Linked DNA regions of Homo sapiens. The protein of the gene in region 1 purifies or fractionates together with the protein of each later gene. This does not show direct contact. Each region holds a gene or a part of one and is shown on either strand. Other genes may lie near its edges.

Region 1 (3,479 bases):
TGCAATAATGTGAATAGTTAGGATTTATTAAATGCATTATCTTCAGATCTTTACATGTATAATCTCATTTCTTTCATGCAGTTACTCTGGGATACTGTTCCCATTTGATGGGTAAGAATATTGAAAACCAGAAAAATTAATTATCCCAAGGTTGCATGGCCTTTAGTGGCATAGCTAGGATTTGAACCAGGCCTGCCTGACTCCAGAGCTCTGGCTAGTATCTATGCTATACTTAGTTGCCTCTCTGTAAGTATAATATTGGGCAATTATAACCATTTGAGAACAGGACAATATGTATTAACCTGAAAAGTGTTCATGATGTCAGTGATAGTACATGGCCTCCTTATGTATTTACTCAAGGGCCCCAAAAGACCAGAGGCCAGAATCCCTAGTAGTCAGAGCAGTGACAGGTCAGAAAAAGGCAGCTGAGGTCCAATAGTTATGTCTGTGTATTGCTCATTCTACTTACTGATGGAGCCAGCATGTATCTCAACAACTCACCTAGCATTCATCACCCATCCCCAGCATTGGGAAAGGGTCACAATTAAGACCGAAAGGAAACACAAAGTTAAATATGGGTTAATTATGTAAGCAGATGCCCCACCACGGCAGGATCCAATCACAGCCGAGGGGCCCAGAAGAGAGCAGCGTAAGTTATATTCACATAGTTCCCCAAAGGCTTTCAACGGGGGCTACAGGAAGGTGCTAGAAATATTGAGGGGCCTGCCATTACTCACCTAGAGCTCACTCTCTGGAGAAGAGGAAAAGGAAGAAGCTATTTCAGCTGCCACATTCTCCCCAATCCCTACTATATTATGCTGTCTTTCCTCTTCCTCCTAGCTGGCTTTACATGACCCTAACCCAAAACTACCCTATGGCCCCACACGGGAATGTGTTCAAACGCCCCGACCCCCACCCCCACCCCCATTCCCAAGCCTCCAACTTAGAACGTTTGTGATTTGGCAGATGGTTTGTTAGGATCTGAAGGATGAAGAGAAGGGTAGAGGTCACCTGGAGAATGAGTTCAAACTGCCAGGGTCTTCCCTTGGTCTTTGTGCGTCAGGAAGGACTCCGAGTAATTATTCCCTATGCAGAGACAGGAGAGAGGTCTTGTTTACATGAGTGTGCTGGGGCAGGGCTGGACAATCCAGGATATGATTGTAGCCATCCCATGTAGAAAGATCAAAAACCAGAACGAAATGAAGACAGCCTCTCAGAACCTCATAGAACAAGCGTCCAGGTCATCTGCTTGTTTGGTGACTTAGATATACAGGCTTACTGGAACTCCATTCACTGTGACCTGAAGTTAAATAATCCCAAAGAGAAAAAGCTACCTGGGGTATTGGTTGATGTTTGGGGTGATAGGGCTGAATTTTCTGTGCATTTGTCCAACAAAGGCTTTAGAGCACAAAACCAGGTTCATTCTCCCTACCAAATCTTCAGCTTCCTTCTCCTCATCCCTCCCCAAAACAAGAACTGTGATTTAATTCCGTACGTTGCGGATGTCACTGCTGACCTATGTAGCTGGAGTACTAATCAGGCATCTGACCTGCACTGTCATCCCCTGCCTGGACTTTTGCGATGGACTCTTTGGGGGAAAAACTAACGCTTTTTAATTATTGTGAAAGCATCATGTGTGTATTGTAGAAGTTTTAGGAAAAAAAGGACAAAATCCAATCCATAAGCTTACCACCCAAGACAAACGTGTATTCTTTTGAATATACCTTTTAGTTCTTTTTGGTGTAAATGTACACACGCACACACAGTTGTGGATTTTTTTAAACAAAAACTGGATACACTGAATATACTCTTTAATAACTTTTCAAGTGTGTATTTATATTTTAGAATATGTAATCCTACACAGATACAAAATTCAAAAAGTACAAACTGCTCTGTAGTCAGAAGTAAATCTTCTCCCTACCCCGTCTGCCAGCATCTAGTTTCCCTCTAATTTATTTTGCATCCTAGTGGAGATGCTTACACATTGTCAAACATATGTATATATTCTTTTATCACACACAAATGGCAGCATATTGGACACTTTTTGTTTTTTGCTCCTTCTGTTCCTTCACTTAATAATATCACGAACATTTTCGGCATATCAAACTTTCTCAACAGCATCTTCATTGTATGGATGGACCCTTTTTTTATCATCAATCCTCAAATAGTGATTATTTCATTTGTTCCCAATCTTCATTGTAAATAGTGTTGCAACTGACATTCTTGTAGCTAAATTTTGCACATGTCTATAACGATTTCCTTAGGATAAACTCCAAGAAGAGACTTGCTTGGCTATTTTTAAGAATTTTGATACATGTTGCCAACCACCCTCCAGAAAGTTTGTACCAAAACGCTCTCCTATTTGGATCCTAGAGAGTACCCTGTTTCCTGCACCCTAACACTAGGTATCATCACTTATCAAATCTTTCCCAATTTGGTAGCTGGGATAATAGTATGTCAATGTTATTTTAACTTTCTTTGATTCTTCGCGAATAACATTTTCATATGCTTATTGACCATTTGTACTTCTTTCTTTGTGAATTTTCTATTTATTTGATATTGGTATGTTTATTATCAATTTGTAATTTTATTAAGAATATTATTTTTGTCAAGAAATGCTGCAAATATGCTTTCCAAGTGCTTTGCTTTCAAATTTTGTTTATGGTGCTTTTTGACATACATAAATTCTTAATTCTGCAATTAATTCGTTCCTCTGTTGCCAGCTTCTCCTGCCTACAGTTCATTCTCTTATTTCTATCAGAGTGACCCTTCCAAAACACAGTTTGACCATGTCACTCCACAACTTCAGCACTTTGGGAGGCCAAGGTGGGTGGATCACAAGGTCAGGAGTTCAAGACCAGCCTGGCCAAGATGGTGAAACCCCATCTCTTCTAAAATACACACCCACAAAAAAATCAGCTGGGTGCGGTGGCAGGCACCTGTAATCCCAGCTACTCAGGAGGCTGAGGCAGGAGAATCACTTGAACCTGGGCATCAGAGGTTGCAGTGAGCCGAGATCACGCCACTCCACTCCAGCCTGGGCAACAGAGTGAGACTCTGTCTCAGGAAAAATAAAATCTTTAGTAGCGCCTCGTCACTTCTAGGATAAAGTCCAAACTCCTTAACAACACACACGGTCTTTCATATTTTGTCTCCACTGATCTTTCCAGCCTCACTTCCTGGTCCTCTTCCCAAAGTATCCTACATTCCACTGCTGTGCAGCTTCTTTTGCCGCCCTGAGCCATTGTGCTGGGTCTCTGGGCCTTTCCACGCTATTCCTTCCCTCTGCCTCATCGGCTATTCCTTAGCCCTTCAGTCCTCTCTACCTTGCTAACTCCTATAGGCCTTCATTCAGGATCACTGCTAGAAAGCCTTCCTTGGTCCTTTAGTCTGAATTCTTAAAGCAACACAAGCCTACCTCAGCCTAGCTTTTGCTACAACAAATTAGAGTTTCTAGTTTACATTCATCTCCCGCACGC
Region 2 (4,300 bases), on another chromosome or scaffold:
AGTGTAGGGACTGTCTTATCCATTCTTGCATCACTGGCATAGTAGGCACTAAATGTAGTTGCTGAATGCTTAATAAGAGGAATGGAAGTCTTCGTAGCTTGGGGTAGATACTAATGGGCAGATAGAAAGTTCCCATCCCTGTTCTCTGAGAAAGTGTCAGTGTTCTTTTAGTTTGCTTAAACTGTGTGGGTACTTGAGTCCTTTTAAACGATTAACGCTGGGAAGAGGCACCATTTAATTAATTAATTTGTTCTGGAAGGGATCAGTGTACAATTTTAACTCAGTGCTTTGTGGATCTAGCTAAAGGTCAAGAACTAAAGTCGGCTATTAGTGCCTCTGGAAGATATTTCTGCACTTTAGCACCTTTCTGATGTTTTTCCTTCACCTCGAGCTGGCCTCACTCTCTTCAACAAAACCGAACCTGCAGGAAGAATGTTGTACCATATCCAGCATTTTTGTCCCAACAAACATGGGACAAACGTTTTTCACTAGAATCATCCTTGAACAAGTTATCCGAATTCCTTACATTCAAAGGAAATCCTGCCCCCAGTCTCCAAAACTTCATCACATCACAGACGTTCAGGATTCTTTCCATTCAAAGCAAAGCCAAGTTACATCTTATAGCACCCAGTGAATTATGATATGGGGCTGCGGTTTATTTGCTCTGGCGACAATATGGCTTACTTGCCGTGGAATATCCCGGTATTTCAGAAGTAACATATTATTTTTAAAGAGGGAGCTTTGCTTTCTCTAAATCACATGGTGCAAAGTTGGGAATACAGTGGCCTGTAAATTACAAATATTATTTACAAACTAGAAGGAAAGCTGACATGTGTTTGTGCCTGTGTGACAGTTTCACTAAGGAATTCCAAAACTGTGGATAGCCTGTTACTTGAGAAAAATACACGGTGGCAGTCTTGCAGATGTTTTTCCCGCCTGTTAGCCCTCCAGGTTCAAAAACTGTTTGGTGCATTTTAAGGCGGCAGTCTCACCAGATCGCAGGATTCTAGTCTAATTGGCTTCTAACCTTCAATCTAACCTTGCCGGCTTCCTTGCAAAGCCCGGTGCAAGGGCCTCTTTCAAAATGAACCCACTGGTGTGCCTAGCAGTCGGTAGAAGAAGCGGGAGGGCGTCCGGTCTGCACGCCCGCCGCGAGGTTACAATGCTGAACGCATGAGATGGAAGATACCAACGGGAGGCCGAGGGGATCCACGGCGCCCGCGCGGGCTCCGGCTTCCTCCTGCTCTCGGCGCCGCTGGGCGACCGCCCATGACCCGCTCTTGCGGGCTCTGTCCGGTTGACAGGCGACCCTGTGGCCCGGGGAAGCGCGGGAGGGCGCCGGCGGAAAGTTGAAGAGCGTTTTTCTCGCCGCCGCGTGCATTAGGAGCTCGACGAGTCCGCCCTGGGCTTCCTGGTGGGGCTGGGCGGGCGGGGGAGGGGCCGCGCAGCAGCAGCGGAAGCCAGACCTCGGCGATAAGAGGCTGCACAGCGACATGCAACAGTCTTTTCACTGCAGCTGAATGAGTTGTGGCGCCCACAATGCTCCCATGACAAGGAGCTGACAAGTTCCATTTTCCGTCGCGGGCATCTTGGAATCATGACTCCCACAATGCCTTGGGCACTTGGTCGACAGTGGGGCCGCCTCTGAAAAAAAAATGTGAGAGGTAAGTTTCCATTTTCACAGTTTCCCCGCGCCGCTTCATTGTTCGGACTCCGGCGGGTCTGCCCGTGGCTGAAGGAGGAAGTGCGAGGAGGTGCTCGCCGGCCGCGGTTCTCCCGGGCAGGGGCGGGCCGCTCGCGGTAGTTGGTTTCGCGTCCCTCAGCACCTCCTGCCCGGGGGAAGGCGGGAGGGTGAGCCGCAGCCGCTCCTGCGCCCTTCCCTGCCGCGGGCTCTGCGGACGCTGTCACGGCACAGCCCGCGCACGGCTTGGCAGCCCAGCGGGACCCAGGGAGAAACAGGGGGGCGAGAAGAGAAACAGGTGCGTGCAAGTGTACTCACAACTTAATGACCTTTGTCGGGGGAAGGTGTGAGTCCCTCTGAGTCGAGCGGCGCGCGGGTCTTCCCGGCGGCTCCCGCATCCCTGGCCCCGGGGCTGCCATCCCGCCCGGTTTTCATCTGGGCCAAATATGTGCACGCAAAGGTTAATTCTCTGCTTGCTACCCATAAATTACGCATGACATGTTTAGCTGGGCTGCCTTATATGGAGAGTGCTGTATTTCAGGCCAGTTTGCCTTTTGCCAAGTTTACAGGGCGGAAGACGCCCTGTAGGAGAGGGCTGCCTCCTCCTTTTCTTCTTCTTCTTTTTTTTTTCATCGTTTTGTAGTGCGTCACTCAAAAACTGTAAGAAAAGTAAGTATAGAAGCTCTTTGGGTGGAGCCGCAGTTGGTTGAATTGCTTTCATGAAAGGTTGAAAAGAATGAAAAGTAGTTAGTACTTGGGTTCTGGTTTTTAGACAAAAGCAGGACAAATATGTAGCCACCCCCCAACTTTTTTTTTTTTTTTTAAACGGAGCCGGAATCTGTTATTGGTAGTAATGTGTCATGTGAGAATACTTTGATTCCAGAGCCTGTAACACGAGCAGGTATATGGTGGCGCTTATGCCTTCCCCTCGCACAGCACTTTACAACTACAGGGGTGTTGCTGCCAGAGTAATATTGTATTCTTAAGGCTCTCTGGGGCCGGGAGAGTATGCGGCTGTTGGGATTCTGGGGTGTATTTCCGTGGAGTATGTCTCCCCAGGATTAAAGTTAAGAAGCTGCCGGAAAGGTTGTTGCCGCTGACTTCACTTTGTGTGCCCACCAGCACAGGCACAAGTCATAGCAGATGGATGGCAAACTCTGCCATATACTCTGAGGAGTTTCTTAAATTAATACGCTAGGAGAGAAGTCATAATTAATGCTTTTAGACTTTCGAGCCCTCTGCAGCGTGCTTTGAAATACTACACCGGTGGACACTATGTCCCTTCCTCCTGGGTTTGAACACAGTGTCTGTTTATACACAGAGGGTGTTTAGTACCTAAGTATTCTATACCAGCACAAGAGAGCCACTCCACAGTTATCTCTCTGTGTGGATTCCTAAGTGTGTTGGTGTTTCTCCTTGCTGTTGAGATAAAATATTATCACCCAGAGAGAAAATGAAAGTTCAACGACTGTAAAATTTATCCCAGGAATGTGCAGTTCAATACTTAGAATGTCTTAGATGTAGTTATAGATAGAGGCACTGAATAAGTTATTTTGTAGCCTGAGAATGCACATCGCTGTCACTTGTATCTTGCTTTCTTAAAGTTGGTGACAACTAAGGCTAAACTTCTTTAGAAAACCTAATGTTCTAGTTTTTATCTGTTTTGTGTATTTGCATGGGAGTTACTTTATTATTATTATTATATTGTTAGGTCTTCTTTGAAAATGTAGGCATAGCTTTTTTAGTCTTATTTGTTTAATGGGGGGTTTCCTTGCTGAAGACTACAAAAGTTGCCTTTTGTGTTTTAAGGAACAGGTTGGGTCAGCAACAGAAAACCTGTTCATCTATAATTATAGTGTCACTTAAGACATAATAATCAGATTTCATTATTACTAAGAGACTCAGAAAAACCTCACATATGCCTAGTTTAATTTTTTTCCTTATGTAACTGTGAACAAATTTGTGTGTAGATACACATCAAGTGTGGTACTCTGCGCAGTCATGCCAAAGAGAAACTGAAGTGTTATATGGTTTGAGATATTATTGCTTGTGTTTACATTTCCACATTTGAGGCAAAGTTAGACTCCAAGTTGAATTCATTAAATTTTGATTCCAACATTCTGTTCTTCCTTTGGGCACAGAATTCCTATGAAATGAAACACTGGGTTTTGTTCCAGAACAAGAACAGACTAACCCAAAATTTCTCCTGGGGGAAAAAAAAAGAGTAAAATTATATTTCTCATTGAAAATTGTATTTCTCATTGAGGAAGGGTGTGTTACTTTATTATATAAAATGCCTTATCTTCATTATAAGAAAAAAATGCCCTTGCATTTGTCACTGTTGCCATACATTAGGCCTGTATTTGATAGATCTATATGGAAACAGAGAATAAATAATCTTGCTGCACCTTCTGGCTTTCTGCTTGGTGATAGATGTGCGGATTAGAGAACATCTCAGGTCTTGGTTAGGAGAAGCTGAAAAGAATAGGTGATTGGGTTTTTAAAATTCTGTATGCAAAGGCATTAGGGTGGGTAGTAGATATGAGAGTCAAAAGAGTGGAGGAAAGAAGTGAAATAGGTTCACGAAGTGATTGGCCCAAAATAAAATCCCATCAACCA

Evidence for each region.
Region 2: the proteins of TTC9 (region 1) and MBNL1 fractionate together in Homo sapiens (co-fractionation; one large-scale study listed by BioGRID). This does not show direct contact.

The regions. Positions count from the first base shown.
Region 1 is NC_000014.9:70,672,663-70,676,141, forward strand, and holds the end of TTC9 (tetratricopeptide repeat protein 9A), read left to right. Parts: 3' UTR 1-2,704; downstream 2,705-3,479.
Region 2 is NC_000003.12:152,267,429-152,271,728, forward strand, and holds the start of MBNL1 (muscleblind-like protein 1), read left to right. Parts: upstream 1-1,500; 5' UTR 1,501-1,664; exon of another isoform or gene 1,665-2,350; intron 2,351-4,300. UniProt on the Homo sapiens protein: Mediates pre-mRNA alternative splicing regulation. Acts either as activator or repressor of splicing on specific pre-mRNA targets. Inhibits cardiac troponin-T (TNNT2) pre-mRNA exon inclusion but induces insulin receptor (IR) pre-mRNA exon inclusion in muscle.